Regions from separate parts of the Homo sapiens genome. Here region 2 is linked to region 1. Evidence: fine-mapped QTL for protein levels in blood plasma. A gene starts in region 1. The other region holds a variant in brackets. All regions are shown on one strand. Distances are from middle to middle. Region 1 holds the start of RBKS (ribokinase). Region 2 overlaps RBKS (ribokinase).

What was found. A credible set is the group of variants that fine-mapping cannot tell apart. PIP is the posterior inclusion probability: the model's chance that the variant is causal. The UK Biobank Pharma Proteomics Project read protein levels with antibody pairs (Olink). The fine-mapping took linkage between variants from a reference panel, not from the people measured, so its PIPs are less certain.
Region 2: its variant is the best candidate, but not a certain one, in a credible set for the plasma level of the RBKS protein (UK Biobank, PIP 0.67).

Annotation. Positions count from the first base shown.
Region 1 is chr2:27,877,347-27,894,165 of GRCh38, reverse strand. It overlaps RBKS (ribokinase), which reads left to right and starts at 3,779. Exons shown (of 8, transcript NM_022128.3): 1 at 3,779-3,909. The coding sequence starts at 3,821. It overlaps BABAM2 (BRISC and BRCA1 A complex member 2), which reads right to left and starts at 3,437. Exons shown (of 12, transcript NM_199191.3): 1 at 3,324-3,437. It overlaps BABAM2-AS1 (BABAM2 antisense RNA 1), which reads left to right and starts at 3,052. Exons shown (of 1, transcript NR_028308.1): 1 at 3,052-4,710. RefSeq lists a silencer at 3,312-3,591.
Region 2 is chr2:27,849,590-27,866,408 of GRCh38, reverse strand. It overlaps RBKS (ribokinase), which reads left to right. Exons shown (of 8, transcript NM_022128.3): 2 at 7,838-7,970. Among named protein-coding and RNA genes, the nearest start is that of RBKS, 32 kb to the left of the region's middle. The variant G/C (reference allele first, on the strand shown) is at 7,837.

The sequences.
Region 1 (16,819 bases):
AAAAACACACACATCACTGAGTTAGCAATCTCTCCCTGTGTGTCCCCACAAGGAGTAAAAACTTGATGGATAATACCGTATAAAACTCTACAACAGGCTGACCTGCTTGAAGCTATTACTTACTAGAAATTATTTACTGCTGATATATCTTTCTTTTTTTTTCTTTTTTTTTTGCGACAGAGTCTCACTCTGTTGCCAGGCTGGAGTGCAGTGGCGCAATCTCGGCTCACTGCAAACTCCACCTCCCGGGTTCAAGTGATTCTCCTGCCTCAGCCTTCCGAGTAGCTGGGACTACAGGCACATGCCACCACGCCCAGCTAATTTTTGTATTTTTAGTAGAGACGGGGTTTCATCAGGTTGGCCAGGATGGTCTCAATCTCTTGACGTCATGATCCACCCACCATGGCCTCCCAAAGTGCTGGGATTACAGGCGTGAGCCACCGCACCCGGCCTACTGCTGATACACCTTTCTTAATACCTTTCCGTCCACAGTGTAGTATAACTACCTGCTTACGTGATCTCTTCCCTGCAGGGTCTATGTTTTGAATCCCCAGGGTTTAACAGAAATACCTGGCACATGCTAAACACTCAATAAACATTTTTTAATAAATAAATGAGTAAGGGGACAAAAGTTAGAGAAATATTTCAGTATGGAGAGAAGATAATGTGCCCCCTCCCCAGAATTTGGTAGGGGAATAGATATAACAAGATCCAAGGAAGAGATATAACAAAAATCTACTTGACAATTAAATTATGAAAACATACATCTATGCAGCTATCAAGCAACACAGACTAACATGGATCTTAAGGTATTTGACTTTAAGGCACTAAGTCCTTACACTTAAAACCACAAAAGTAGAACCAATACATCATATCTAAATTATCTGGAAACTCATAGGGCTGGGGGAGGGAGTACACGAATTCTTCTTAATAGATTTCTAAATGAAAGCCTCTTCCTTCAGAGGAAAAAGTCGATTCAAATGATCGTTTCCTTCCTCAATTTTAAAGAATAATGCCACATCAAAAGAAAATTAATTTCCAGCAAGTTACCAGTAAATGATGCTCTGGTTCTAGTTTTCATACATTATACCACATGAAAACTTACAAGTCCTTGCTAAAATAAATGTTGAAAATTAAAACCTGTTTCAGTTTATTATTTCAGATAGTAAGTAATAAATTTATTTGCTAATTTGATAGCTCAAAAAATAAGAACACTTTGACCCTATATAGTGATGACAACCAGAAGTATCTTCGAGATTAACACCTTTATATTCATACTTCAGTTCTAAAATCATCCTTTTTGTAAATATAAAACAAGCTCTTCTTCTGACCGCTTAACAGATGACCGCCCCCCGACTAGTCTCTCATTTCAAAGTAAGACTAAACATCTAACACTGTACTACCAATCATAAAAATCATGTACTTTTTTAAACATTTTATCACTTACAAGGAGCGTCCATATATATTACTGCAGTTGATCTTCACAAGCCTGAGGTAGTAAGGAATTTTAATTCCCAGTTTGCAGATAATATGGGTAATTATTATAATTTGATTCTGAACAGTATACTAATCCACATCATAATTTTGAAGCCTATTTTTTTCTATTCGCCAACATTTCCACCTTCATGTCTATGTCACAATTCTTGAAGGGATGCTTATCAAAGTCATATGCTAAGTACAAATATACCTATCTTATAAAAAAGCAAAAGGGTCTCACCTATATTACCGAATTGTTCTTCTGTGTTTTTCCCCACAGTACCCATTATTACTTTATCTCTTGCTTCTACAAAAGAAGGAAACAGAACCAACACATTCTAGACACCTATCTACCCATTATCAGGCATTATATTACTCATCTCTATCTGTAATTTCATTTACATTTCCCCAACTCTGTTCCCTGAGAACAATAATTGTTCCCATTTGACAAGTGGAAGCTAAAGAAACTTGACAAATAGAAAATTAAAGCTCAGCAAAATAAAATAACTTGTTGAATGTTGGAAGCTGGAGGATCAGAATCCAAATCCGGATTCTCCAAGTCCACTATACCCATCTTTCTCTCAAATAAACATTGATAACTTCTATCACCAAAGAGAAAAGCATCAAGGTGATTTTGTAAAGCGTATATCTTATAAAATGTGAACAGACAAAAAGTAAAAATTTAAACAAATGATTGCTTTACCACTAAAAACAAACTGGACTATTGCTGACCTACTGCTGAACCTGGTCTGAGTGATTCACTAGTCAAATGTTAAAGGGAACAGCCTTGCTCTAGAAGCCAAACCATACTAAGTGACAACAATACATTCTAATTCAGCAACGGTCGTGACTTTAGGATGACACCTGAGGGAATGAATTCTATTTCCAGGGCAGCCATAATACTATGTTTTAACAGTGCAAGGTTTCACGCAGTATTAAAATCTATTTCAACCATGAGGAGGTGTGACTTCTCTAAAAAAAAAGGGCGGGGGGTGGGGAGTGGAACACAATGACTCCAAAATCAGAAGTCACTTAGCCAAAAACACTGGTCCTTTGGTGCAGTGAACCGGGTACATGGACAGGGAGTCACCACCGGTAGTAACTCTTACGCATGGCAGCACTATAATACACCCCAGATATACAAATATTTACGGTGGTCAGAGTCCCCTGAATACTACTACTGCAATTTGTATTTCCTGATTTTGACGTATTGCAAAAGGAAAATGCAAAATTACAATTTTTGCAAGGGTCTGCTACCCCAAAATAAAGTTACAAAAGGTCCTTTGATGAGAGGCCTGGGGATTACAAAGACGTCTAAAGCACCATCCAGGTTCTTGCAATTAAAATGAGATGACAAACACGGAAACATGTGCCCTGCTGACGTCATGGAACGGAAAGGGGTGGCATCCTGCTGCGTCACGTCGACGTCATACAGCGCACGAGGGAAGTTACACTGGGGAAGCAATTTCCCCCAAGGGGCAACATTCGAGAAAAACAAGTTAGCTCAGACCCGAAGAATGACCACCCCACTCTAGGGGACGTCTTAAAAAGGGACACTCTCCCCTCTTCCAAACTGTATGATTCCCCTCATCAGGCAACAAGGAACTAATACTCGGGGTTTACAGGAACCAGGGGATGGGCCAGATATGGAGAAAGAGACGCCTCTGGCCTTGGGGGCTCGTTCTTGAGGGAATCAGCGTGATGGGGATGAGAAGGGCATCTTTGGAACGGGGGCCTTCTCCATAGGAAGAGGAGGCGAGTCCCCTGGCCATATTTAAACCACAGTTCTCCACGCCACCTGTGCGACTCGGGATCCAACCTCCCCGCACCAGCCCCAGTCCAGGTACCTGGAACTTAGTCCGATCGGTAACCGGCGACTACGTGGGGTACAGGTACCCGAGCGCGCCCCCGACAGACGCACCGACCTGCGCGCGCGCCGCGGGCAGGATGCGTGCGCACTCCCCGGACGTCCCGCCCCGCCCCCTCTGCGGCCCCGAAGCTGGGCGGCGTGCGCGCCCCCGCGCCGCGCCGAGCCGGGCGCTCGGAAAGGCGTCCCCGCGGTGCCTGACAGTTCCTTCCTCAGCGCCTGCCCCGTGAGTGACGAGGAGCGCGGAGTCTCGCCATATCAGGAGGGCCCTGTTACGTGAGGCTGTGCACCGAGACTATTCCAGGAAGAAGAGGGGACACTTGGTGGGCGGGGTGATTTCGGGCAGTCAGGTGGGCGACCCGCGTAGGCGTCTGAAAGGCCCGCGTCGTTAGGGAGGGCAGGAGTGGCGTCTCTGGTTACGGGGTCGGGCAAAGGGCAGAGGTCACCGTCCAGGTTGGACAGCAGCACCTTTGAGCGATGGCGGCGTCTGGGGAACCCCAGAGGCAGTGGCAAGAGGAGGTGGCGGCGGTGGTAGTGGTGGGCTCCTGCATGACCGACCTGGTCAGGTTAGTCCGGGGCCAGTTACTCAGTCTGCGGCTCGGGGGAGGAGGCGTGCCGTGCGCTATGCGCCCAGTGGAGCTTTTGGGCGCTGGGTCTCCAGGGATAGACAGTGCTAGCTTTGGGTATGAGCTGCAGGTTTTCGAAGCCTTCAGCCTACCTTCCTGGCATGAAAGAACTTGAGTATATAAAGGTAAATCTCAGGGGAGGGGACGTAATAGGCCAGGGTTTAGTGAAAGCTCTAATATTACTCAAAGCGCTCCCCAAAGACCTGCCCTCCAAAGACTTGCGCCCCCAAAGACCTTTCTTGGCCCGGCTGCTGAGCCTTTCCCCAAACGAGCCAGGGAACTTTGCCCACGTCATTTTACCTCCGAGAATGTGCCTACCTCACAGGGTTGTTGTGAGGACTAAATGAAGTAAAGTGTTTTGTCAAGCGTAACATTATCCAAATTGGGTATTATTCGTCTGAGCTTATTGTATAAAATAATGAGTTGAGCAGAAATCAAAAAGACTGTCACCTTTCACCATGTTGATTGTCGGCATTACTGCAGTATTTTATATTTACAGCGTATTTTTCAGCAAGCCAAGTATGAATCAAAATAAAAACATAAACACAGTATTTACAACCTCTGAAAACGATGATCAAATTATGATAGAAAATATGCCAAATGAAAATTGTTGAGTTAGGTCAGTAAGATTGAGTAGACAGATCCTTCTGATTTTTCTTTTTTTTAAATTAAGGTAGCTTTTCTGATTACAAAAGTAATGTATGTTCACTGTAAAATTAGTAATAAATTCAGATATTCCAAGAAAATCCTACCACTCCAATTACTGCAGTTCAGTCTTTTGATGAATATCTTTTCAGTTGTAATGCTACTTTGTGTTATAAAAATGATCAGGTATGCTACAGTAACACCTCATTCGTCCTGAAATGTTGCTTTTCCAAAGGGTAATAGAGAACGTGGAACTAAACAAAAAGGCTTTGGGACAATCAAAATAAGTCACCAAATTGCTGCACCAAACCACCTGTATTCTACTCAGAAAATAGGTCTAGGGTCTTCATGTAACCAATTTAACCTTACCTTAAAATATTTATAAGCTGTGTTACCAAATTTCCACTGAGATTAGAAAGGTGGGAGTTAGAGAAGAGACTGCTAGAGGCAGTTATAGTGACTGACGAAAACTTGAGGATGAGTAGGAGACTGTGTAACGAGAAGAAGCAACAAAAGAATTTTAAATACCAATGACCTTTATTTTTCCACAAATATTAGAACTATTCTGTCAGACACTGTGCCAAGATAAAAATACTTTCCTTTGGTGACAGAGCATAAAATTGAATCTAGTTGGAGACATTTGTTGAAGAGGCCTGTACATCTTTTTCTAGAGCAAGAGTAAGTAAACTTTTCTGTAAAGGGCCAGATAGTAAATATTTTAGGCTTTGCAAGCCGTATGTGGTCAAGGTCACATTTTTTTTTAACAACATTTTTTAAATGTAAAAACCATTCTTACCTCCCAAGCCTTACAAGAACATCCTGCAGGCCATAGTTTGCAGACATCTGTGTAGAAAGAACATTACTGTGTTTACAACACAATATAGCAATTGATTTTACTGGTGATGACTCTTTTCAAGAAAAGGTTATATGGTACTTACTAAATTTTGTATAAAAATAGAGCATGTATTTCACTTTAGAAAAAGTTTCATCAAAAATTCATAAAGTTGAGTTACATAAAGGAATAAACCTTCATCTAAAATGATTCATTCCATGGGAAATCCACCAAGCTAAATGTTTACCATGATTTTATGTGTGAAGTGGCAGAAGAGTAAGAAAACTAAAGTGGACCGGGCGCAGTGGCTCATACCTGTAATCCCAGCACTTTGGGAGGCCAAGGTGGGCAGATCACCTGAGTGAGGAGTTTCAGACCAGCCCAGCGAACATGGTGAAACCCCATCTCTACTAAAAATACAAAAATTAGCTGGGCATGGTAGCTGGCGCCTGTGATTCCAGCTACTCAGGAGGCTGAGGCAGGAGAATTGCTTGAACCTGGGAGGTGGAGGTAGCAGTGAGCTGAGATCGCGCCATTGCACTCCAGCTTGGGTGACAAGAGCAAAACTCCATCTCAAAAAAAAAAAGAAAAGAAAAGAAAATTTTCTCATACATCCTACCTGAATAAAAGTGTCAGGGTTAAAATTCAGAGCTACTTCCTTGTTACCAAACTGAGAGCTTTCTGTGAAGCTTGACCATCAGATACTAAAAATAACTATAGTACTTTGTGGGGTGGGGTAGGGGAGTGGTGTCAAAGGCCCATTTTAGCATCCGTCAGGGTTTTAAAGTCTTATTTCAGAGCTAGAAAAATTTGGAAATTATTTATTCTAGTCCTTCAGTTTTTAGATAAATAAACTGAAGCCCAGAGAAGAATTTCTCCTCTTGGCCATATTCTTTCCTTCATAAAATATCCAAGTTTCTTCTCTTCACATGAATCAGTAAAAATTTTACTGATGATTAGCAAAATCACTAGTAAAAATTTTACTGATGATTAGCAAAATCACTAGTAAAAATTTTACTGATGATTAGCAAAATCATTAGTAAAATCATCAGTAAAAAATCATTAGTAAAAACTGTATTCCCATATAGACTCTCTCTGCTAATTCCCACAGCTTTTCAACAAACTTTTCATGATCTCTCGTTACTTATGACACTGAAGATCTTTACAAAAATCTGCGTATAGGATTTTCATTTAAAACCCTGCATCTGTGATAAACTTGGGTGCAACTTTTCTAGTTACAGTTAGTATCATGATTATATTAGTTATCTACTGCTGCTGTAACAAATTACCAAATTTAATAATTAACGCAAGTTTATTTTTTTACTGTTCTGGAGGTCAGAAGTCTGATACAGGTCTCACTGGGCTAAAATCAAGGTGTCAGCAGGGCTGGGCTCCATTCTGGAGACTCTAGAGGAGGATCTGTTTTCTTTCCTTTTCCACCTTCCAGAGGCTGCCCACATCCTTGGCTCATCGTGGCCCCTTCCTCCATCTTCAGAGCCAGCAATGGTTGTTCAGGTCTTTCTCACATTACATCACTCTGATCCCCAGTCTTCTGGCTCCCTCTTCTACATTATAAGAACTCTTGTGATTACATTAGGCACAACCAGATAATTCAGAATAATCTCTTTATTTTATGGTGACTTATTAGGAACCTTAATTTCCCCTTGCCACGTAACAACATATTCACAAATTCTGGGGATTTGGATGTGGACATACTTTGGGAGAGGGGAGCAGAGAGTATGTTATTTTTGCTACCACAGTGGTTAAGCTTGAAGTAAAAAATCCTACAATATTTAGTTCTCAGAGACTCTTTGAAGCCTATCATTCTATCCTCACATTTTACAAGTGAGATAAGGAAGAGAGCTTCAATGACTTACTCCAAATCACACAGCCAGTAAGTGGTTACTTACTGGCTAGTAAGTGGCTAGTAAAGGCTACTACCCAGGTCTCCCAATCCTTAACCTTTCTTTTTTATTTTTTTAAATATATATTTTCTATTTTTTATTTTGTTAAAGATGGGCTCTCGCTATATTGCCCAGGCTGGTCTTGAACCCCTGGGCTCAAGCGATCCTCCTACTTGGTGTCCCAAAGTGCTGGGGTTACAGGCGTGAGCCACCGTGCCTGGCCCCAATTCGTACCTTTCCATTATATCATTCTACCTCTAACTCTGACTAGTGTTTATTGCCCTTTTCATCTACAGTACATTTGATAGCTTGTAGTCTGTACATTCATTGTTAACTTTATAAACTGATAAGGAATAACAACTAAGGATTTATAATTTTCAAGTCTAAAGATAGTATCTTTATTACTGTGCCTTATTCCTAAATTTAACTGTAACTAGCCTGGACACGCATGCCTATTCTTTAGTATCACTTCAGAAATAAAACTGCTTCAATAACTAAGCCCTTTTAGATGGCATCCAAGCCCAACTTACTTTATATATTACATTACTGTGTGCCAGACACTGCTAATTCAATCAATGAATAACCTTTTTTTTCATTTCTAATTTCAGTCAGCTATGAATAGTAAGTCGTATGTAGTAATAATTTTTAAAAATCATTAGCTCATACAGCATGGCAAACAATTGAAATTATTTAATACTCACTTATATTTTTCTCATCATCCTCTTCCTTCTTGAACACTCATCTCTAAAGTTACACATTACAAAGATACAAGGAATCAACCCTGGTCTTATGGGATATAAAGTCAAAGATTTTCCAAAGACAGATTTCCACAACAAAACAACAATGTGTGAATATTTTTAGACGTTAGGCTCATAGGCCTTTGTTAATCATGTTTTCATTAGTAAACCTTATTTTTTATGACCTGTATCACCCATTTTTTTAATTATTCATTCAAGAAATATTTATTGAATTTATACTATGTGCCAGGCACTTCCTGATGTGCAGAGGATACAGCAGTGAAAACACAGACAAAAATCCCTGCCTCATGAAGTTTACATTCTAGTAAGACAGTATCAGTAGAAATAAGTTAATTACATAGTAAGTTAGGTAAAAGCTAAGGAGAAAAATTAAACATGTAAGGAGGGATGGGAATAGGAAGTTTAGATTACTGGCTTCAGAAAGCCTCACTGAAAAGGTTATTTAGAGTAAAGACCTAAAGGAGGAAAGAAAACAAGTCATAATCTGAGGGAAGAGCATTCCAGGCAGAAGGAATAGTGTACTCAAAGGCCGTATTCAGTGAAGAACATGGAGTCCAGTATGGATGAAGAAGAAAAAAAGAGTCAGGAGACAGCAATCAGTGATTAAAGGACATTGAGTCATACTTTGGATGAGATGAAAAGCTAGTGGAGGATTTGAGCAGGGGAGTGACATAATCTTATTTTGATTATAATAGGATCTCTCCAAGGGCTATATGAGAATAAATAGCATGAAGGGGAAGGCAAATACAGAAGCAGGGACACAAATTCAGAGTCAATCCCAACAATCTAGGCAAGAAATGATGGTAGCTTGAAAGCAGTGAAGTGGAGAGAAAGCATCTTTCTATTATATTTTTGGGGTAGAGTTGACAGGATTAGTGGAAGTTGACCTCTATGAAAACGCAGAAGATTGTATGCAGAGAAAGTTGGGTGGGAGAGGGCTGTATCAGGAGCACAGAGTGGAATTGGGAGGGTTGAGGTACCTACTAGATATCAAATTGAGGAGGTGAAGAAAATAGATACAAGAGTTTGGATCTCAAAGGAGAGGTCCAACCCGGAGATATAAATTTCAGAGTCATCAGTGTATCAATGGTATTTAAAGCCATGAGGCTGGATGAGATCACTGAGGGTCTGACCTCCTAGGGCACTACAACATTTAAAGGATAAATTTTTAATAAAATTGACTTCCTGTCTCTCTTCAAGTCTCTCTGCAGTCCTAAAACTTGCTTTGAGACGTGCTTAATACAAACCTATGTTTATATTTCCATAGCAATAGACTCTGATGTCAACTAAAACTCTGTGTTATCTTTTTACATGCTGCCAATTAAAAGTGATGGCTTGAGAGATAAGACTCGTGTTCACCCAAGCATCTAAGCTTAATCCTGCCAAATCAGGAAATGAGTGCCTAATTTTCAAAAGGTTTAATTGGATAGTGGAATAAGTGAATTTAGAAGCTTTTAGATCCAAAGCGGATGAAGCATTGGACCTAGATTACTTAAAAAAAAAAAGTTATGGCCAGGCATAGTGGTGGCTCAAGCCTATAATCCCAGCACTTTGGGAAGCCAAGCGGGTGGATCGCTTGAGCTCAGGAGTTAAGACTAGCCTGGGCAACATGGCAAAACCCGGTCTCCGCAAAAAATACACAAATTAGCTGGGCGTAGTGGTGTGAGCCTGTAGTCCCAGCTACTGGGGGGCTGAGGTGGGAGGATCGCTGGAGACCCAGAGGTTGAGGCTACAGTGAGCCTCGATTGTACACTGTACTTCAGCCTGGACAACAGAGTGAGACCCTGTTAAACATAAAAAAATAAAAGAGAGTTATACTGTACCTATCAAAGTTTGTATTTGTTTGACATAATAGAGTACTTTGTAACTGGGACACAGGTTACAGAGTCAAGAAGCCTCTTGGCTTGTCATATTTAGAACAGAGAAATCTCTTTTACAGTCACATTTTCAAAAACTAAAAAAGGAATATTGATCCAAAAAGTATCATGCTTTCCCAGTATTCGAGGAATATAATATCCTTCATTATTCTTTCTGCTTCTTAAATTGGTCTGAAAAGTTGCTTATCAGTTACCAATCATTTATTAAATTAGTATTTTGTTAAACATAGTTGTGTCAACTGTATTCCCTAATATCAAAAGTAATCATTCATGGGAAATTTGGTATGTCCCTTTAATGAAAATATACATTAAAAAATTATGGCTGGGTGCAGTGGCTCATGCCTGTAATCCCAGCACTTTGGGAGGCCGATGTGGGAGGATTGTTTGAACCCAGGAGTTTAAGACCAGCCTAGGTAACAGGGTGATGAGACTCTGTCTCTTAAAAAAAAAAAAAATTGCATATGACAAAGAAAGAGCACCTACTGTGTACTATTACAAAGCAGTCCCTTTAGCAATCCATTCCTTTGCCAGCTCTCTGTGCCTTAGGCTTTTCATGTCTGTAACCTAAGGAGAACAAAGTAAGGTGGACTTTGTGATGAGTTTTGCTCTAGTATTTTGATGACTTGTTTATAATGCTGAAATACTTATAGTGTGCTAAACACTAAGAATACTGCAGTTAGGAGGCTGGGCGTGGTGTCTCACGCCTGTAATCCCAGCACTTTGGGAGGCCGAGGCGGGCAGATCACGAGGTCAGGAGATCGAGACCATCCTGGCTAATACGGTGAAACCCCATCTCTACTAAAAATGCAAACAACTAGCTGGGCGTGGTGGCAGACGCCTGTAGTCCCAGCTACTCGGGAGGCTGAGGCAGGAGAATGGTGTGAACCAGGGAGGCGGAGCTTGCAGTGAGCTGAGATCGTGCCACTGCACTCCAGCCTGGGTGACAGAGCGAGACTCCGTCTCAAAAAAAAAAAAAAAAAGAATACTGCAGTTAGGAAAACATGGTTACTGCTTGTCTTGTCTTAGTCCCTTTTGTGCTGCCATAACAGAATACCTAAGACTGGGTGATTTATCTTTTTTCACTTTTATTTTAAGTTCAGAGGTACATGTGCAGGTTTGTTATATAGGTAAACTCATGTCACACGGGTTTGTTGTACCCAGGCATTATTATTTTTTTTTTGTCACCCAGGTATTAAGCCTAGTTCTCATTAGTTATTTTTCCTGATCCTCTTCCCTCCTTTCACCCTCCACCCTCAGGTAGACCCCAGTGTGTGTTGTTCACTTCTGTGTGTCCAGGTGTTCTCATCATTTAGCTCCCACTTATAAGTAAGAACATGCAGTATTTAGCTTTCTGTACCTGTGTTAGTGTGCTAAGGATAATGGCCTCCAGCTCCATCATGTTCTGGCAAAGTACATGATGTCGTTCTTTTTAACAACTGTGTAGTATTCCATAGTGTATATGTACCACATTTTCTTTATCCAGTCTACCATTGATGGGCATTTAGGTTGATTCCATGTCTTTGCTATTGTGAATAGTGCTGTAATGAACATACACATGCATGTGTCTTTGTTACAGAATGATTTATATTCCTGTGAGTATATACCCAGTAATGGGATTGCTGGGTCAAATGGTAATTCTGTTTTTAGCTTCTGAAGGAATTGCAACCCTGATTTCCACAATGGTTGAACTAATTTACACTCCCACCAACAGTGTATAAGCATTCCTTTTTCTCCGCAGCCTTGCCAGCATCTGTTAATTTTTGACTGTTTAGTAATAGTCATTCTGACTGGTATGAGATGGTATCTCATTGTGGTTTTGATTTGTATTTCGCTAATGATCAGTGATGTTGAGCTTTTTTTGATATGCTTATTGCAAATAAAATAAAATGTATGTCTTCTTTAGAAAAGTGTTTGTTCATGTTCTTTGCCCACTTTTTAATGGGGTTGTTTTTTTTTCTTGTAGATTTGTTTAAGTTCCTTTTAGGTGCTGAATATTAGACCTTTGTCAGATGCATAGTTTGCAAAAATTTTCTCCCATTCTGTAGGTTGTCTGTTTACTCAATAGTTTCTTTTACTGTACAGAAGCTTTTAGTTTTCTTTAGTTTAATTAGATCTCATTTGTCAATTTTTGCTTTTGTTGCAATTGCTTTTGGCATTTTGCCATGAAATTTTTGCCTGTGCTATGTCCAGAGTGGTATTGCCTAGGTTGTCTTCCAGGGTTTTTATAGTTTTAGGTTTTACATTTGTCTTTAATTCATCTTCAGTCGATTTTTGTATATGGTGTAAGAAAGGGGTCCAGTTTCAGTCTTCTGCACGTGCCTAGCCAGTTATTCCAGCACTATCTGTTGAATAGGGAGTCCTTTCTCCATTGCTTGTTTTTATCTGTTTTGTCAAAGATCAGATGGTTGTAGGTATGTGGCCTTATTTTGGGGGCTCTTTATTCTGTTCCATTGGTTTATATGTCTGTTTTTGTACCAGTACCATGCTGTTTTGGTTACTGTAGCCCTGAAGTATAGTTTGAAGTCAGGTAGTGTGATGCCTCCAGCTTTCTTTTTCCTTAGGATTGCCTTGGCTATTCAGGCTCTTTTTTGGTTCCATATGAATTTTTATTTTATTTTATTTTATTTATTTATTTATTTTGAGACAGAGTCTCACTCTGTCACCCAGGCTGGAGTGTAGTGGCACAATCTTGGCTCACTGCAGCCTCTGCCTCCCAGATTCAAGCAATTCTCCTGCCTCAGCCTCCCGAGTAACTGGGACTACAGGCCCACACCACTACGGCTGGCTAATTTTTGTATTTTTAGTAGAGACGGGGTTTCGCCATGTTGACCAGGCTGGTCTCAATCTCCTGACCTCGGGTGATTTGCCAGTCTCAACCTCCCAAAGTGCTGGGATTACAGAGGTGAGCCACTGTGCCTGGCCTTATTTTTCTTGAGACAGGATCTTGCTCTTTCCCCCAGGCTGGAGTGCAGCAGTGTGAAAGTGGCTTACTGCAGCCTCAACTTCCAGGCTCCAGCAATCCCCCGACATTAACCTCCCAAATAGCTGGAACCGCAGGCACACACCAGCATGCCCAGCTAATTTCTGTTTTTTTGTTTGTTTGTTTGTTTGTTTGTTGGTTGGTTGGTTTGCAGAGATGGGGTTTTGCCATGTTGCTCAGGCTAGTCTCGAACTCCTGGGCTGAAGCAACCCACCCACCTCAGCCTCCCAAAGTGCTGGGATTACAGGTGTGAGCCATCGTGTGCAGCCCCATTTGAATTTTAAAATACTTTTTTCTAGTTCTGTGATGAATGTCATGGTAGCTTAATAAGAATAGCATTGAATCTGTAAATTGCTTTGGGCAATATGGCCATTTTAATGATATTGATTCTTCCTGTCCATGAGCATGGAATGTTTTTTCTATTTGTTTGTGTCATCTCTGATTTCTTCAATCAATATTTTGTAGTTTTCATTGTAGAGATTTTTCATCTCCCTGGATAGCTGTATTTCTAGGTATTTTATTTTGTGTATGTGGTAATTGTGGATGGGATTATGTTCTTAATTAGGCTTTGGCTTGACTCTTGGTGTATAGGAATGCTGGTGATTTTTTGTATCTTGATTTTGTATCCTGAGACTTTGCTGAAGTTGTTTATCAGCTTAAGGAGCTTTTGGGCCAAGATTATGGGGTTTCCTAGGTATAGAATCATGCAAATAGGGATAGTTTGACTTCCTCTCTTCCTACTTGGATGCCTTTTATTTCTTTCTCTTGCCTGGTTACTCTGGCAAGGACTTCCAATACTATATTGAATAGGAGTGGTGAGAGGAGGCATCCTCGTCTTGTGCTGGTTTTCAAAGGAAATGCTTCCAGCTTTTTCCCATTCAGTATGATGTTGGCTGTGGGTTTGTCATAGATGGTTCTTATTATTTTGAGATATGGTCCTTCAATACCTAGTTTATTGAGAGTTTTTAACATGAAGCAGTGTTCATTTTATGGAAAGCCTTTTCTACAACTATTGAGATAATCGTGTGGCTTTTGCCTTTAGTTCTGTTTATGTGATGAATCACAGTTACTGATTTGCATATGTCAAACCAACCTTGCATCCCAGGGAAAAGTCTACTTGATCATGGTGGATTCGCTTTTTGATGTGCTGCTGGATTCAATTTTCTTTTTTTCTTTTGCCAGGTTTTGGTATCAAGATGATGCTGGCCTCATAGAATGAGTTAGGGAGGAGTCCCTCCTCCTCAGTTTTTTGGAATAGTTTCAGTAGGAATGGTACTAGCTCTTCTTTGTACATCTGATAGAATTTGGCTGTGAATTCATCTGCTCCTGGCCTATTTTTTAGTTGGTAGGCTATTTATTACTGATTCAGTTTCGGAGCTCATTGTTGGTCTGTTCAAGGATTCAGTTTCTTCCTGGTTCTGTCTTGGGAGGGTGTATGTGTCCAGGAATTTATCCATTTCTTCTGACTTTTCTAGTTTGTGTGCATAGAGGTGTTTATAATATTCTCTGATGGTTATTTGTATTTCTGTGGGGTCAGTGGTAATATCCCCTTTAAGACTGGATAATTTGCAACGAACAGAAATGTGTTGGCTCGTGGTTCTCTCCACAATGGAGAGTCCAAGATCAAGGGCATCTGGTGAGATTGCTATATCATTCCATGGTAGAAGAATAAAGCAGGTTGAGGGGAAGAGAGAGAGGTAAAAGGGGGCTAAACTTGTCCTTTTATTAGGAACTCACTCCCTTGATAACAAACCCACTCCCATGATAATGGCATTAATCCATTCATGAGAACAGAGCTCTCATGACCTAAACTCCACTTAAAAGTCTCACCTCCCAGTGCCATTTCACTGGCAATTAAATTTCAACAGGAGTTTAGGAGGGAACAAACATTTGAACCATAGCACTGCTCTTGGGGAATTTACAGTCCAGAGAAGAAGGCAGACTCAAAAAGAGATTATTATAGTATGACATGGTAAGTGCCTGCAGGTTATGCGAGAGAACAGGGAAAACTTCCTAGAAGAGATGCCCCCGAGCCAAATTTTCAAAAATAAGCAGGTGGTAACCCAGAAAAAAAGGGGAAGGAAGACATTCCACCACTTGGGGTTACACACAGAAGCAAAATCATGGATGTGCTTGTGTGGTATGTGCTGAGGCACATATGGCTTGCATGGTATCTGCTGAGGCAGCAACCCTTGGGTCTTAGAACATCAGGATATACAGTGGTGATGAAAGGCCTAATCAGCCATGCTGAGGTGCTTAGGTTTTATTCTTTAGGCCCTGGAAACCAGTGAAGGGCTCAAAGTACAAGAATGACAGCCAGAACAACCCCATCAAAAAGTGGGCAAAGGATATGAACAGACACTTCTCAAAAGAAGACATTTATGCAGCCAAAAGACACATGAAAAAATGCTCATCATCACTGGCCATCAGAGAAATGCAAATCAAAACCATAATGAGATACCATCTCACACCAGTTAGAATGGCAATCATTAAAAAGTCAGGAAACAACAGGTGCTGGAGAGGATGTGGAGAAATAGAAACACTTTTACACTGTTGGTGGGACTGTAAACTAGTTCAACCATTGTGGAAGTCAGTGTGGCGATTCCTCAGGGATCTAGAACTAGAAATACCATTTGACCCAGCCATCCCATTACTGGGTATATATCCAAAGGACTATAAATCATGCTGCTATAAAGACACATGCACACTTATGTTTATTGCGGTACTATTCACAATAGCAAAGACTTGGAACCAACCCAAATGTCCAACAATGATAGACTGGATTAAGAAAATGTGGCACATATACACCATGGAATACTATGCAGCCATAAAAAATGATGAGTTCATGTCCTTTGTAGGGACATGGATGAAATTGGAAATCATCATTCTCAGTAAACTATCGCAAGAACAAAAAGCAAACACCACATATTCTCACTCATAGGTGGGAACTGAACAATGAGAACACATGGACACAGGAAGGGGAACATCACACTCTGGGGACTGTTGTGGGGTGGGGGCAGGGGGGAGGGATAGCATTAGGAGATATACCTAATGCTAAATGACGAGTTAATGGGTGCAGCACACCAGCATGGCACATGTATACATATGTAACTAACCTGCACATTGTGCACATGTACCGTAAAACTTAAAGTATAATAATAATTAAAAAAAATAAAAAATAAAAATAAACTGATTAAAGGCAAAAAAAAAGAATGACAGCCAGATTTATATTTCACGTAGTTCACTTAGTGCTAAAGTCAGATTTAAAAGAAGCCAATGTTTTAAAGGCATCAAAGGCATTCTTCTTGAAGACAGGAAGACCTATTTGAAAGGTAAAACAGTAGTATTCACAAATGTTGATGATGGTGCGAACTAGGACAGTAGTGCTGGGAATCAAAAAGAGGAAAAAGCTTAAAGAAATATTTAGGGGCTAAAATAGTTGGAAACAACTGTTTAGTAAAGTGGGCATGAATCAAGCATTCACTCTCTGATCTTTTATAAGGAAACACTAATGTTGAAACTTTATTTTCCCACATTGACAAGACCTAGAAGGTAGAGTCCTTGGAAAGAATCCCATCTTATGGAACAAAAGCATTCCATGCTTACTACTTTTATTGGGGGGGCAGGGGCGGTTATATTCCTTAAAAATCAAAATAAATGGTATCAAATAATTAAGAGATAGTCAAATTCTCTCTAAGGGAAAAAATCCTAATTTTGTTTTGAGATTTAAGAAAAAATACAGGTATTCTTTCATAATTGTAATGGAGACGCTAATGACAAATTTAGCTCAAAAAATTTACAAATATTAACTGGAGGCAATGAAATGACAGAAGATATAAACATAAAAAAGAATG
Region 2 (16,819 bases), 28 kb after region 1:
CATGATATAAACTACATCAGAGCACATTGTGATCAAATTCCTGCAAATCAGTTATAAACAGAGACTCTTAAAAGCATCCAGAGGTTAAGAAAAAAAAGGTACACATTACATATAGAGGAACAAAGATTGATTGCAGACTTCCTGTCAGAAACAAGATGCAAGTCAGAAGAAAATAAAATCTTTAAAGTGCTTGAAAACTAAACTGTCAACATGGAATTCTATATCTTTCCAATATAAAGGGGAAAGATAAAGACTTCCTAAAGACTTTTTAGGAAAATAAAAGAATTTATCACCAGAAAACTCACACTATAATAAATGTTAAAGGAAGTTCCTTTAGGTGGAACCAAAATGATTCCAGATGGAAACCCAGATCCACCCAAAGGAATGAAGACCCCCAGAAATGGTAAATATATGGGTAAATACAAAGACTTTTTCTTCACTTCTCAATTTCTTTAAAAGGCAATTGACATTTAAAATTAATAAAGTAATAACAGTATTGTGACGTTTACATCATGTGGAAGTAAAATGTATGACAATAGCACAAAGGTTAGGAAGGGGAAATGGAAGAATATGTAAAGTAGATTACATTTTTAAGTAAAGTGGTATGGTACTGTTTGAAAATAAAGTGTGATCAGTTTAAGATGCATATTGTAAACCCTAGATCAACCACTTTTAAAATACTAGGGGAAAAAATCAGCCAGGCATGGTGACTTATGCCTGTAATCCCAACACTTTGAGAGGCCAAGGTAGGAGGCTCACTTTAGGCCAGGAGTTCAAGACCAGCCCTGGGCAACTTACTGAGATTTGTCTCTACCAAAAAAAAAAAAAAAAAAAAAAGGAGGAGGAGAAGGGAAGGTAGAATATAACACACAAACAGGGAACGTAAAATGGAATACAGTTAATCCAAAAGAAAGCAGGAAAAGAAGGAAATGAGTATTGTAATGTCATGTAGTGATATTGCTATGAAGAAAATTGTTGGGAAGCAATGCTTCATGAATGTTTTCATGTTTCTGCATGATCAGGACTTTCTGAGCAAAGATTTCTGGCACCGGATTAAAGAATTTTGTTTGTTTGTTTGTTTGTTTGTTTGAGAAGGAGTCTCGCTCTGTCGCCCAGGCTGCAGTTCAGTGGCGCGATCTCGGCTCACTGCAACCTCCGCCTCCTGGGTTCACGCCATTCTCCTGCCTCAGCCTCCCGAGTAACTGGGACTACAGGTGCCTGCCACCACGCCTGGCTAATTTTTTGTATTTTTAGTAGAGATGAGGTTTCACCGTGTTAGCCAGGATGGTCTTGATCTCCTGACCTCGTGATCTGCCCACCTCAGCCTCCCAAAGTGCTGGGATTACAGGCGTGAGCCGTCGCGCCCGGCCTAAAGAATGTTTGAATGGCAAACAAGCCTTGGAAGTTAAAGACCTGTGGAGAGATTCAGAGACTTCTCCCCAAGATAATTTGTTTTCCTTCTGAAGGTTGTAAACCTAGAGACCCTCCCCTTCTCTCCCTGAGAGGATTTGTTTACAAAGCAAAGGTCAGTAGGTCATGTGCAGGTGATGCATGCTGCTTCTTCCCCCACCCCAGAGGGGAGAAGGAGCAGCAGCTGTGTGTGAAATGTCCTATATAGGCTCCAAAATTTACTATTAGGGAGTTATTCTTATCATGTAACCTTGTGGGGGACTGGAGAACTAAAGTATAAGTATTTAAATGCTGTCTCTGATTCAAAAACCTGGTTTTTTTTTTTCTCAGAATGAATGAGTCAATACTTAAAAATTATATTAAGAAGGGAGTGTCTCCTATAAGGTGGTCTGGGAAGTCCTCTCTAAAGAGGTAACATTTGAGCAGAGATGTGAATGAAGTCAGCCCTGTAAGACTGTAACATGGGAGAAGACCATATGTACTAATCTTTATTGTCTCTCTCATTGCCTGGTACACTTTTTCACACATAAGTAAGTTTTAAATAAATAGGGCTCAAGGATATGACATTGTGAAAGGCTGGTCACTTCTGGCTAGAGTGTTGTTTGTCCACTCTACAAATTCCAGAGTAGCTGCATCTTCAGACAAAATGACATTTTAGTCGCAGACATTTTAGCTAGGAAAAGATATGAGTTTCACGCCTGTAATATCAGTGCTTTGGGAGGCCAAGGTGGGAGGATTGCTTGAGGCCAGGAGTTCAAGAGTAGCCTGGGCAACATAGCGAGACCCCATTTCTACAAAAAAAAAATTAGTTGGGCATGGTTGTGTGCCCCCGTAGTCCTAGCTAATCAGAAGGCCAAGGCAGGAGGATTGCTTGAGCCCAGGAGTTCGAGGTTACAGTGAGCTGTGGTTGTACCACTGCACTCCAGCCTGGGCAACAGAGCAAGACCCTGTCTCTTAAAAAAAAAAGATATGGGTTAGTAATCAAAATCAGTTAAAAACTGCATAAAGCATAATTTATGTTTCATTACCTTAAATAAATAACATATACGTCTGCAAATGAAGGGTTAGGGAACATAGAATGAATTTTTAGTTGGGAGATTTTTTTACAGAGGTAGAAATAGATGTCACTCACTTGATTTTGAAATTACTCTCAGCCTTTTAAATGTGGCATATACAAATGCTGAGAAGAATAAATATGGTTGAAGAATACAGGCAGTAAGAATAATAAATTAGTGTAATGAATTTTAATTGGGTAATAATTAATAGTACAATCTCCTGTTATAGAGGCTTCTGTTGTCAGAAGCTTGCAGCCAAAAGGAGAAAAGATCAGTGCAAAAGCCAAAAAGCAACACATTTGGTGACTTTTGGCTGAAGCCAATATTAGCATGACCTCTTTGGTTGAAAGACTTTTCATCCCCCTATTACCGGGTCATTCCTTCCTTTGGTTCGAATAATCTCTGAGAATCTGTAAAAACCACATCATTGTCAAGAAGTTAAAAGCAATTGATAAGTTGTTCTGGTAACACCTGTCAGTGAATTAACTCAGAGCACAAAACCCAGGCATTTAAGGAGTTGACAAGTATTATTAAACCTGTTTTGCAAGAGAAGAAGCTGGTTCAAAGAGGGAAAAGCTGTCAAAAGTAATACAATCAGTAAGTGGCTCAGGCCTCCTGCCTGGCACACCCAGGCTCTAACCACGTGGCCTCTCATGGCAGGGAAGACTGGGGCCATGTATGAACATTTATCACTGTTCCTTTCAGTCCAACCTGAAGACATTGTGGCATTTTAAAAGCTATGAATTTGTTTTAAATTCAAATATATTTCTTAGGCATGGTTTTCTCTGTTCAGGTTTTCTCCCTCATTCAGAAATTTACACTATTTTTACCTTTAAATGGTAGTAACAATGTATTTCTACTAATACTGTTTCCTTTTCTTTTTAATTTGAGCAATTTAATTTTTCTGTCTTTGACACTCTGTTAAACCTCTTTTTTTTTTTAATTAGAACAAATCATAGTAATGCTTTCATCCCAGGAGACGGTGCTTTGTGCAGATGCTTTCTTGAACCTGAACATAATTTCATGATTTCAATAAGGAAGAAAGATAGGAAAGTCTCATTCAAATTAAATTAGGATTTATAATTCAGAAATGCTTCTGCCTGTTTGTAACTAACTTCCTAGTTGCTCTCTCCACTCTTCAGTTTATTTACTTTATAAAAAATTAAATCCGCCATAAACTGTCTTAGTCTGGGTTTAACAGAAACCAGAGCCTAAGACAGAGGCTTAAGTGCACATAGTCAGTTAGCACTATAACCCCCGAGTCAAGAGCAGGGGACAGGGAAGAAGGAAGAGCGTATACAAAGGTATTTGACATTTGCAAGTTGACCACTGGCTGCTCAGTCCTTCAGGACAGTCTGAAGAGACAGAAGCCCAGGGGTGGAATGAGAGCAGCATTCAGTAAGGCTCTGTTAGGTGACACCTGCGAGAAGCCAGCTGGTGCCCACCAAGAACTGGTGGCTAGTAAATGAGGCAGAGGCCACGTGAATCTGATGTAGTGACAAGTGGTATCGTATAATACACTAAAATATTCTTGTCGTATGTATTTATGTGCATAAGAATATAAAATAACACACAAACTTTTAGTCCCCACCTTTCTTTGTGAATACCTGTCATTTAACTTTTCACTTTTTATGCATGTACATATCATGGGAGAACATATACCTATATCTTTTTCCTTTTAAATAACATAAATCAGCCAGGCACGGTGGCTCACGCATGCAATCCCTACACTTTGGGAGGCCGAGGCAGGAGGATCGCCTGAGTCCAAAAGTTTGAGACCAGCCTGAGCAACATGGCAAAACCCCGTCTCTATAAAAAAATACAAAAAATTAACCAGGAGTGGTGGTGTGCACCTGTGGTCCCAGCTCTCTGGGAGGCTAAGGTGGGAGGATCATCTGAGCCCAGGAAGTTGAGGCTCCAGTGAGCCATTTTTGTGTTCCACTCCAGCCTCAGCAACTGAGCAGACTCTGTCTCAAAAAAAAAAAAAAAAAAAAAATCAGGCCAGGCGCCATGGATCACACCTGTAATCCCAGCTCTTTGGGAGGCTGAAGCAGGGGGATCAGGAGTTCAAGACCAGCTTGGACAATAAAATGAAACCCTATCTCTACTAAAAATACAAAAAAAATTAGCTGGGCATGGTGGTGCATGCCTGTAATTTCAGCTACTCGGGAGGCTGAGGCAGGGGAATCATTTGAACCCAGGAGGCAGAGGTAACAGTGAGCCGAGATAACACCACTGCATTCCAGCCTGGGAGACAAAGTGAGACTCCACCCCCCCCCCAAAAAGAAATGGAACATACTAATCTCCTTATTCCGTGAATTATTTTCTTCACTCGTGTATTACTTGCATCAGGGTTAGGTTTAATGCCATTGTCAACAAGTTGATTTTGCCTTGTAGGAGATACATCAGGACACAGTGATGAACATTTGTTGAATTAGTGCATGAATGAAGGAATATATGACTTCTAGTTACAGTTCTTGCTTGTGGAAGAGGAATGCTGCTGATACTGGGAGTGCAGTGGGCAAGATCTGGTAAAATATGGAGTTGTTATTGTCGGACAGTTGCCCAGTCATCCCTGCCAGTCTCCCCCTGCTTCCCTAATCAACACCTCCACATCCTCATTTCAGAACAGGAATAGATGCTATACGGGGGAGACACAGAAAAGAGACAAAGGGAGGCTGGGCGCGGTGGCTCATGCCTGTAACCCCAGCACTTTGGGAGGCTAAGGCAGGCGGATCACTTAAGGCCAAAAGTTCGAGACCAGCCTGGCCAACATGATGAAACCCCCTCTCTACCAAAAATACAAAAATTAGCCTTGCCTGGTGGCGCACCCCTGTAATCCCAGCTACTTGGGAGGCTGAGGCAGGAGAATCACTTGAATCAAGGAGGTGGAGGTTGCAGTGAGCCGAGATCGTGCCACTGTACTCCAGCCTTGGTGACAGAGAGAGACTCTGTTTAAAAAAAAAAAGAGAGAAAGAGAGACAGAGACAGAGACAAAGGGAGACTCTTACAAAAATCTGTTCAATCAGCAAATATCTGTTAACCTCGTGTCAAGTGACAGACACATTGCATAAAATGGAGAACATGACAGACTTGGTCCCTGTCCTCATGCAGGGAAAGTCTACAGTTAAGGGAAGAAAGAGACAAGAGTAGGGGAAGGATGCAGAAGAAAAAGAGGAGAAATTAGTAAAATACCAAAAGAGTGAAGAATTTCAGTGATCACTGAATTAATACAATGCTTGTGTTAATAGAAGTTGTTTAGAAATGAGTTTAAATCCCAGCCATCTGCTCCCACATCAAACACACCTACTGTACCCATGATTTTGCCCTTCCCCCACATATATATATACATCCCAGTAATAATCTGGTGATTTTTAAATGAATTCTCACAGTTAGTAATAAAAATTACACTTGATTCAAACCAGTGAATTGTAACCCAGATCTAAGTATAGATGTAGTGGAAATCATAAGTTTCTTTAGTGACAGTCTTACTAATCAAGTTATTTGGCCTGTTTTTAGCCACATGGTATATTTTTTCTTTTTCAGGTTGCTCTGAGTGTTGTTTGTAGCAGCATCAGTAAGCCAAGAATTCACATAGTTACTCAATCACACAGATTACTCATCATTGCCTGTTCATAACAGAATCCTAAGATGTTTAAGATTTCTAATGCAAATCAAAATCTCATCATCACTTGTCATTGCTAAATTAAATGACAGGATAATAACATTACATTAAAACCATTTTTCTCTTGATTGAGTACCTTTTTCAGAAGTGAACCTTCTAGATGTATATTTTTTTTCATCAGTACTATAAATGCATTTAGAATCCAAGATAAAAATAGAATTTAAAGGGGAGGAGTGGGATGTTTTCAAATTATTGATGAGGCTCTTTTGAATCTCAACCATATTTGACAGTGTACTGCAAGGGAATGGAGTAGTTCAGCTCAATTTATTGACACTTTTAGAGCTATATAAAGGAGGTTAACAGGTTGAGCTTGGTCTTTATTGAAGCAATCGTGTGTTCTTAGCATCAGTTATATGTCATCCCGTTGCAAACTGGCTGTTAGGACTTGTCATTGCTCTGTTCTAATATAAGATACTGACTTCAGATAGATCACAACCTATGTGGAAAATTAATATAAATTTCTAACCTGTAAAAGCAGTGTAGGTTCTCAGTGGCCTTACCATTGTGAACTTACCTCTTTACCTTTCTTTCCTATCTAAAGCTAGTTAACCTTTTTTGGTCACACCTACCCTCTTTTTATCTGCTCCCTCTGGCCCTTGGCCCACTTCTCTGTGGCCAGCTAGCCAGTGTTCGTGCCACCTGAGCCCATCTTCTTCACTTGCCCTAGAACTCCCCAGAATGCCTCTTTCATTTTAAAGTCAATCATTTCCTTCCATCCTTCAAATATTTTATTTCCTCACACCTTCCATCTTTAATAATATGAAATATAAAAATCTTACCCTGGATCAAACCTTTTATTCTTTTTGCCTCACTTAATACTATCATCATTAGGCAATAATAGCATTATGGTAAAAATTCTTACCTCTTAGAGAAGCTGATGAAGGTATTGACTCAAACAAGATTGGCTATGAAACAATAAGTATTAAATTATTAAATCTGGATGATAGGTGAATGAGGGAAAGGGAAGCCAGTATGCTGTTTTCTCTACTTTTATAGGTTTGTAATCTTCCATAATAAAAATTTAAAAATAACTTAGCTCTTTAGTGTTCCTTTTTTAAAATAGACACCCTTTTTGAGTGAGCACGTGAAATGATGTGGTATGCAGGATGGACTAAGACTAAAACCTGATCCTGCTCTCTGAACACCCCACTCTTACTCTACCCCTTAGTAAACAAAAAAGATTCTTTAGCACCTGGAATTGTAACTTCCCTCTTCTCCTTAGGTCCTGTACTTGATTATCAGAATCCTGGTCTGGTTTAACACTTCCTGCTTCTTGGTTTAACACTTCCTGCTTCTTGTTAAAGTGACCAGATAAACCCATATAGAAATATACATTAATTTCATCCCATTTATTAAATCCCACTGTGAATAAAGTTCTGTGCTGGCATTAAGAAAGAGAATATGAAGGAAAAGTATTCATGAATAACCCTGATGCAGTACAACACTAGCCACAGTAGTGGTCTCTAGGAGAGAGAGAGGAATTCTGTCAAGGAGACTCATTCTTGATAATGATGCAAACTACTAAATGTCATCCTAAAGGAAGAGATAATCTTCGTTGCTTCTGCTTATAGTTCTAATTGTTAAGACTATTTAGAGCTCTACCATATAGCCTTCCCTCTCTTCTAAAGAACTTAAATTGATTACAGTTACCAATATGCTTTTTTCTTCTCTTTTTAAATTACAATA[G/C]TCTTACTTCTCGTTTGCCAAAAACTGGAGAAACCATCCATGGACATAAGTTTTTTATTGGCTTTGGAGGGAAAGGTGCCAACCAGTGTGTCCAAGCTGCTCGGCTTGGAGCAATGACGTCCATGGTGTGTAAGGTAAGTACAAAGTATAGTGGAGAGGACTCTAGAGGTAAGAATCTGGTTTTAAGACTGGAGTTCATTGTTTTTAATTTTTTCAACCATTTTAGAGTGAACAGTTCAGTGGCATGTAATACATAGAGTGGCATTTAATACATTCAACCACCACTTCTGTCTTGTTCCAGAACTTTACCATCATTCCAAAACAAAATCCCTTACCCCTTAAGCAGTTCCTCCTCATTCTGTCTTCCCTTTAAAGCCCTGGGAACCACCAGTCTTCATTCTATCTCTATGGATTTATCTATTCGGGACATTTCATATAAATGGAATATATATTATGTGACATTTTGTACCTGGCTTCTTTCACTTAGCATACTGTTTTTGAGGTACAACATTGTAGCATATATCAGTATTTCCTTCCTTTTTGTGGTTGAATAATATTCCATTGTATGGATATACCACAATTTTTTTATTCATCAATGAATGGATTGATGGACACTTGGGCTGTTTCCACCTTTTGGCTGTTATGAATAGCAGTGCTACTAACATGCATATACATCTACTTGAGTACCTGCTTTCAATTCTTGTGGAAGTTTATTGTTTTTAAAGATCTAAATAACAGAGAATAGTCTCCCTTGTCCTTTATACTAATTTCTACCTCATTGAATCCTCTGGGAAGTAGCAGTTCTCAAATAACTTAATGCTGCATTCCCTGAATGTAATGAGTTTGTAACTGGGGTGTGAGAAGTGAGGGAAATTAGCGTACTCCAATGGGTTTCTGTCATCCAGCTTCTAAACAACAGCATGAGTCACCTTGTTTTTAGCAGGTTTCACCGCAGCAACACAGCTTTTGGAAACTTCTTGTAATAACCGGTGATTTACTCATCTCTAAGTCATTTTCTTCTAATGCTGTATCTTAGATCTGAAAAGAATCTGGGCCTTAATGAGCTACATATAACTGAGCTTTTGGCATAGTTTTGTTTTCATGTATGTAGAGATATGATATTGTAACATACAGTATTCCTATTTTTATCCATGCTACCGAAATAATTTGAAAATAAATGGGCTGCCAAAAGTTTTCACTTTTCATTTTTCATGAAATTTTAAGGCGCTAGCATTATAGCATTAGTATAACAGGAAAGGTAGATGATTGTGTTTCTTTGATTTTTAGGGAAAGCCAGCCTGTGTCTGCACATTATTAAAGGGCAAGAAAAATACAAGGAACTTAAAAGAATGAGCTTTCTCCTGTGAACTATGTAGATTTTACCAAAAATTCTCGAAATGTCATTTTTCATTGCAGTCAGCACTTTTCTCTCCACAGGAGTTTTAAATGATGTATAAACTATACAATTATCACTCCATCTGCTAGTAAACTGTAATTTTATTTCTAACCTATGATTAACATAATTTTCACATGGCTATTTGGTCAAAAACATCACGTGAAGCATCAGATTCAAAGCAAGAAACCCTCTTTTGCTAAGATTGAGCTCTTGATAGATTTAAAATATCAGTGTAATTAATCAGCAATTAATTATGTTCCAGGAATTATGGGTCTGTGAGAGGTGGCTGATTAAAAACTTAGGCCTGACCCATCTCATACCTGATTAGCTATGGAGCGTTTGGAGAGTAATCAGATGGTGCTGACTTAATTAAGAGGACCTGGGAACTGGAAAGAGGATGATATAATTTCCTGTGTAGGAAAACTTGGACATAGAATTGGCGTTGGAAGCTATGCACCCAAAATGGCTTCGCTGGGAAGAGGGGAGTTCCTAGAGCTGGAGACATTAAAGGAGAGATTAGAGAACCCCTCTCTTGGATGTTTTATGGAAGCTATTTATGTAGCCATTAAAGTCAAGATTGGATGTCCCCTGGGATCTCTTCCAACCCTAAGATTATGAAATTGATTTTATTTTAGGTCTGTTGAATTTGAGGCAAAGAAAGAAATGACAAAGAGAAATATTTGAGTTATGGAACTGAACGTGGGAAATGAATCCTAAAACCATATGAGTGGATAGGAGAGGAATAGAAGCAGGGGGCTGTATTTTGGGAAATGTTCCAGTTAGGAGGTTGATTAAAGCAAAGGTACCATTTGTGTGTGATGGTTTATGTTAGCATCTGTACAATTTTGAAAGTTCTATACATCTACCATGCCCCTGATTTAGTCACCTAATGCTTAGCACCACAGTGGATTTTAGCCTGTGTGTCTGCCTAGCAGAGGATCAAAAAACATGACTGCAGCTAAAACCTATCCAGGGTAACTTTGGTTAGATAACTTGGAACCTTTAGACATGGAATTATTTAAAAGCTTAAGCAAATTGCATAATATTCTCAGACTTCTTAAAAAGAAAATCATATATTTTTGTAAAAGAAGTTATTATCTGTCCATTAATCATATTTTATCCATTGTGAGATACATTTTTATTAAGCAAATTAGCCAAACTTGCTTTATAGCAGTTTTTTAAAGATGACAAGTTCTAAGTAGAAACCAAAACCATGAAATTTATCAAGATAAAAATGAACAGAAGGAGCAAAAGAAAAACAGGTAAAAATTTTCTATGGCTTTCTCAGCAAGATTTATTTACCTCTTGCTACCTATAACAAACTAAAATTCAAACTCTTATGAAGTAAGATTGATGGCCCAAACAAACTTATATTGAGCTAGGGAGAAATATTTGTTAAGATATTGTGACAAAGAATATTAAATGAGTTACCTCATTATTTATACAGTGATACATGTATAATGAAACACTTCAAGTACTTAAGAGTTAGTCAGTATTTAGCTGAGTCATGGACCAAAGCTACAGTCTAGTGATAACTGGAGATGGTATTTTCAGATTTAAAATCCTGGCAGATATTGTATAAAATGAAAGTCTTCCTCCCAGGGCAAAGAGCCTATTAGGACATCTTTCTTAAATCTTCACCTGAGTTAAGTGTTTCCTGCTCCATTCCATTGAAGCCAAATGTTAAGAAGAGGAAGTTATTCCTAAACATCAAAAGTTGGCAGTTCAGGAGAGGACCATGGTCAAGTAAGGAACTCAAGATGCACTGGCCCAGTATGAGCACAGAAACCATGAGCAGGTATGAACCCAAATGACCCAGGTCAGGAATCAGCAAACTGGAAACACCTTCAAGAAATTACCCTGTCTTGCTTCCTTCAAATGTGAGACTATCAAACTATCCTTCAAATATGAGACTATCCTTCATATATGAGACTATCAAACTCTCTAATACAGGTAGCTATCTGTTTTCCCTTCAGAACCATCAAGCATGAAGTTTTGTGACAGAGGTGATACTGATGCAGGCTGCCCTGAGGGGCTTAGCCAAGGAGGGTTCTTGGCTTTGCCCAGGCAAGAATTTAAGAGTGAGCCAAGGATAAGAAAAAGCAACTTTGTGTGGTGGGGGGGCGGGGGGTAGTAAGAACACTTAACTTGAGATCTACCTTCTTAAGAGCATTTTAAGCATACAATAAAGTATTATGAACTATAGGCACGATGTGGTACAGCAGATCTCTGGATCTTATTTTATCTTGCCAAATGGGCAGGAGGAAACTTGGAGGTGATGGATGTTTATTACACTGATTGTGGTAATGGTTCCACAGATGTATGCATGTATTCAAACCCATCAAAATGTATACATTAAATATATGCAGGGTTTTTATTATAATTATATCTCAGTAAAGCTGTTAAATATTAAAAAAAAAAAAAAAGAAAAAGCAACTTTGATTGAACCAGTGCTGCAGGGCTAACTGATAGGCTATGTGCCCAGAGGGTAGTGTATGGGCTGTTAGCAACTATATTTACATGTACTTTAAATTATATGCTAATTAAGAGGCAGGTTATTCAGAACTTTTTGGAAAAAGGGTGGGGAATTTCCAGAACTATAAAAGGTAACTTCTGGGCCATTGCCATGGCATTTGTAAACTATCTTGGGTCCAGTAGGAGTGTCTTGTGCTAATGAGCAGTGAGAGCAACTAGAGGTCACTTTCCTCTTTTCAGCCAGCGTCTTCATTGCACCATGTTTTGACCAGATCCTGCTTCCACCAGCAGGGTCCAACTGGAAAATAAGACCTGCTGGCCTCCTAACTCGGTACATTAAGGTGGTGCTGTTCAAAGTCCAGTCCTCAGGCTGGTGCCAGGCTGCATGCAGATTGTCACCGGTCCAAACAGCACAGGAATTGAGAGTAAGCAGTTAGGATCATTTATAGCAATTTGACAGAATAACTTTACAACCGTTGAATATAATAGTAATAATAAATTAGGCCTTGTAGTTTGTATGACTCTTTTTTGTTTTCATCTCCTTGTTATTGTATTTTATAAAATTGTTAGTCCACAATGGATTGAAAACAAGAAAAGGAAAACAAGGCCAGTGCTTCTCCACGGATAGCTTGAAAAGCAGTGCATTAGAGTATCCATCACCTTAACCAAAAAGTACCTTCTGTGCTAGATTACTGTGGGAGAATCATCTGATCATGCATTGAGATTTTCATTTTCAGAGATCAAAAATTAGTCACCAGGTCTTTCCAGGTAATATATAATGAGGTGAAATCTGTCCTTTCCTGAACTCTGTTGAAAGACAGCTAGATATAATTAGTTGGCTATGTTGATTGGAATGCTTAGCCATATGTTCAAACAAATGATCCTATAACCAAGCAAATAATATAAACCTTGTATAGGAAGAAATGGTAGAAATGAGAGAAAATAACTGGATTATCTCAAACCTATCACCACTCTCAGATAATCAGGCCTAATAATGGTGATTGCAGCATTAACTTTGTATATTAAAGGTCTTTATTTTTTTCTGAGACAGGATCTCACTCTGTTGCCCAGGCTAGAGTGCAGTGGTGCAATCTGGGCTCACTGCAGCCTCAACCTCCCCGGGCTCAGGTGATCTTCCTGCCTCAGCCTCCCAAGTAGCTGTGACTACAGGCATATTCCACCATACCCAGCTAATTTTTGTATTTTTTGTAGACAAGGTTTTGCCATGTTGCCCAGGCTGGTCTCAAACTCCTGAGCTCAAGCAATCTGCCTGCCTTGGCCTCCCAAAGTGCTGGGATTACAGGTGTGCACCACCAGCCCAAAGGCCTTTTTTTTTTTTTTTTTTTTTCAGAGACAGGTTGCCTGGGCTGTAGTACTACGGTGCTACAGCTCACTGCAGCCTCAAACTCCTGGGCTCAAGCAATCCTCCCACCTCAGCCTCCAGAGTAGCTGAGACTACAGGCATGCAGCACCACACCCAGCTAATTTTTTAATTTTTTGTAGAGATGGGGTCTTGCTGTGTTGCTGAGGCTGGTCTCGAACTCCTGTCCTCGAGCAGTCTTACCACCTCAGCCTCCCAAAATGCTAGGATTACGGCATAAGCCACCATGCCTAGCCTAAAGGCCATTATTAAGGTAAACACCCCTTTATCTAGGATTTAAACAACCAGCAAGCTTTAATAACTGAGATTTTATATATTCTTCTTATGTATTTTGTTATAAGGCCACAAATGACAAGTTAAAAGTTAATATGAAGGATTTATTCAAAAAAGCAACAGCTGGGTTTTGTATGACAACAAATGCAACTTAGTCTCCTCAACCAGCTGTTCACTATAACCCTCAGGCACTGAAAAGTGACAAAATGTCTTCAGTTGCAAGGATTAAATTATATTCATCTTAGTTTTAGTGTTAAACATATTTTCTGTATTCTAATGCTTTGAAATCGGTAACCTGTTTTAATATATGTGATAACTTCTTGAGCAGAATATTCAATTTCATGTGGCCTTGGGTAGGATGTTTTGATATCCTGTGTTTTATTTACCCCAAATGTATGTTGAGGAGTAGAATTACTAGATGGTTTCTGCCATTTGAGGATTCCAAGCAGCCTAAACAACCATTCCTCAGTCATTTTGCAAAATAGAAGTTATGATGCTGACTGAAGTTGCCCTCCTTAGCTTCAGGTCATAGTTCTGGACTCTGGAAGCCCTCCCAAAGCTCTTCTTCAATGCAGAAAGATCCCTCCCAGTGATAAGAGTGAAGGAAGCACCTCAGTCCCCTTAGCTGAAGAAATGCTCTTGTTCCTCATACACCCAGCCCTTTTGCTTTCCATGACCCTTGCTGCATTGTCAAATACAGAAGCCACTAGCCACATGTGGATATTTAGATTTAAATGTAATCAAAGTTAAAAAATTGAATTCCTGTCACACAGTCTGTATTTCGAGTGTCTGTATTGGGCAGAACAAATAGAAAACATTTTCTGTATTGGACAGCACAGATATAGAACATTTCATCATTGCAGAAAGTTCTATTGGATGGCACTACTCTACAATATTCAGGGCGGAACTGAGCCTGGGATTTCCAAAGAGCATGTTGAGTTCTGAGAGTTCCCTTTTGGCTTATGTGCAGGTGCTTGTCCATAGTTGCTCTTGACCTGGCTTCCTTCACGTGGAACAAGTTAACACAGACAGGTTATCTCAGACTATGCGGGTTTCCAAGAATCTTTCTACCCAAAAGTATTTCACTGCTGTAGTCAAAAGAGTGTGAGGGTGCCTTCAAGGAGGCTGTTGGAAACAAAACCTTGTATGGAACCATTCTAGAATAGTTTGGGTGCTTGTAGTCATGTTCCTTCAAGAATGGAACATGACAGCCGGGTGTGGTGGCTCACGCCTGTAATCCCAGCACTTTGGGAGGCTGAGATGGGCAGATCACCTGAGGTCAGGAGTTCGAGACCACCCTGGCTAACATGGTGAAACCCCATTTCTACTAAAAGTACAAAAATTAGCCAGGTGTGATGGTGCACACCTGTAATCCCAGCTACTCGGGAGGCTGAGGCAGGAGAATCACCTGAACCCAAGAGGCAGAGGTTGCAGTGAGCGGAGATCGCACCATTGCACTCCAGCTTGGGCAACAAGAGCGAAACTCCGTCTCAAAAATAAAAAAATAAAAAATTTAAAAAAAAAAGAATGGAACATGACTACAAGATGGGTCCAAGGAAAATGAACAGAAGGACAACTAATGTGATCAAATCCTAAAGAATCTCCAGTAAGCTTTTAAGAAGACTAGACTAACAAATATGAAATCGCCAACAATATAAGATGGTATTGAACTATGGGCTTGATTAGGAATGTCATAGGAGGTGTGGAGATGAGAGGATTAACAAGGGCCAGAGTAGGGAAGGTAGACCTTAAGCTGATACTTGAAAAACAGGTGAGGTTTGATTTAGTGGAGGAGAGAGGGCAAAGGACTTCTAAGTTCTCAGAAATGATGGTAAGGAAACAGACAGGTTTCTTTCTATTGATATATCCAGAAAGGAACAATTTTCTGTGGAAGAATAGAACACACCAGGAGTGACTGAAACCTGGATTGAGACATAGTCCATTGAAGTAATGCTCACCTGCAGGACAGAAAAATAGAAGTTCAGTTCAGAAGTATAGTTCAGAGGTAGCAAGACTAAAGGCCTACAGGAGCCAAGCAGGTAACAGAAATTGCAGTAGGCTAGGTGAAGCCAAGAGTCTATGAGCACTTTAAGGCACTCACCTCTCAGTTCCAGGTGGTTTGCCTTGCAGGAATGTGGACCCAGTGTTACCAGAACCTCTGAATTTTCAGAACCCCCTGGACATCTGTCTGTTTTTGTGAAGTCTTCTAATATTTAAGTATTGAGAACTGATAAAAATAGCAGGGCATTTACACCAAAACCTGCACACAGATATTTATAGCAGCTTTATTCATAATTTCCCAAACTTGGAAGACATCCTTTAGTAGATAAATGGATAAATAAACTCTGGTACATCGAGACAATGGAATATCATTCAGCCCTAAAAAGAAATTAGCTATCAAGGCATAAAAAGACACAGAGGAACTTTAGTTGCATATTACTAAGTAAAAGAAGTCAATCTGAAAAGGCTGCATACTGTGTAATTACAACTGTATGATATTCTGGAAAAGGCAAAACTATGGAGACAAAAGATTAGTGGTTGCCAGAGGCTAGTGGGGAGAGAAGGATGAATATACAAAGCATAGAGGATTTTTAGGGTAGTGAAACTATTGTGTATAGTACTATAATGGTGGGTATATGACATTTTACATTTGTTAAACCCTATAGAATATCCGACACCAAGGGTGAACCCTAATGTAAACTATGGAGTTTGAGTGATAATGATATGTCATGTAGGTTTATCAGTTGTAACAAAGTACCACTTAGTTGCAGGATGTTAATAGTGGGGGATACTAGTTGCCGGAGGAGACAGAGAGTATATGGGAACTCTGTACTTTCTACTCTCTTAGGCTGAGAACCTAAAACTGTTTTTAAAATAAAGTCTAGTTTTTAGAAAACAGTAGTAGGGCAAACAAAACATATCTAGCAGTCAGATTGAACTTTCAGCCCACCAATTTACAACCTCTGCTGTAGATTCAACTGTAGAGTTCAAGCCAAGGTCCAGCCAAGGTAGCAGTCAGACAAATGGTTAGCATTAGAGGGGTATGGGAGAAGATAACAAGGGTGTCCTGACTAGCACAGTGATTGCAGCACCACGGAGGCCAGAAACGGACAGTAGGGAGATGTCGATAAGATGCCAGCATTAGTATCAAAGGCCTTGCAATCATAGTTTTCTGGTTTTGAGCCACAGACCTAAAGGCCTGGCCCCTGCAAATGGCTGGCCAGGCAGAGAAGAGTGCCTGTTCTGAAAGAGCTAGAGGGCTAACCAGATGATTAGGATACACACTCATGCTGACAAAAACAGGGGAGATCCAGTTACCAAAGTGGACCACAAAGCAAGAATGTGGTCACAGGATCCAGTCACAGACAAAGCTACTTAAATTATAGTTCAGTGGTTCAGGGTTACACTAGGCACTAGGCTAACTAGCTTTTTCTTTTCTTTTTTTTCTTTTTTTCTTT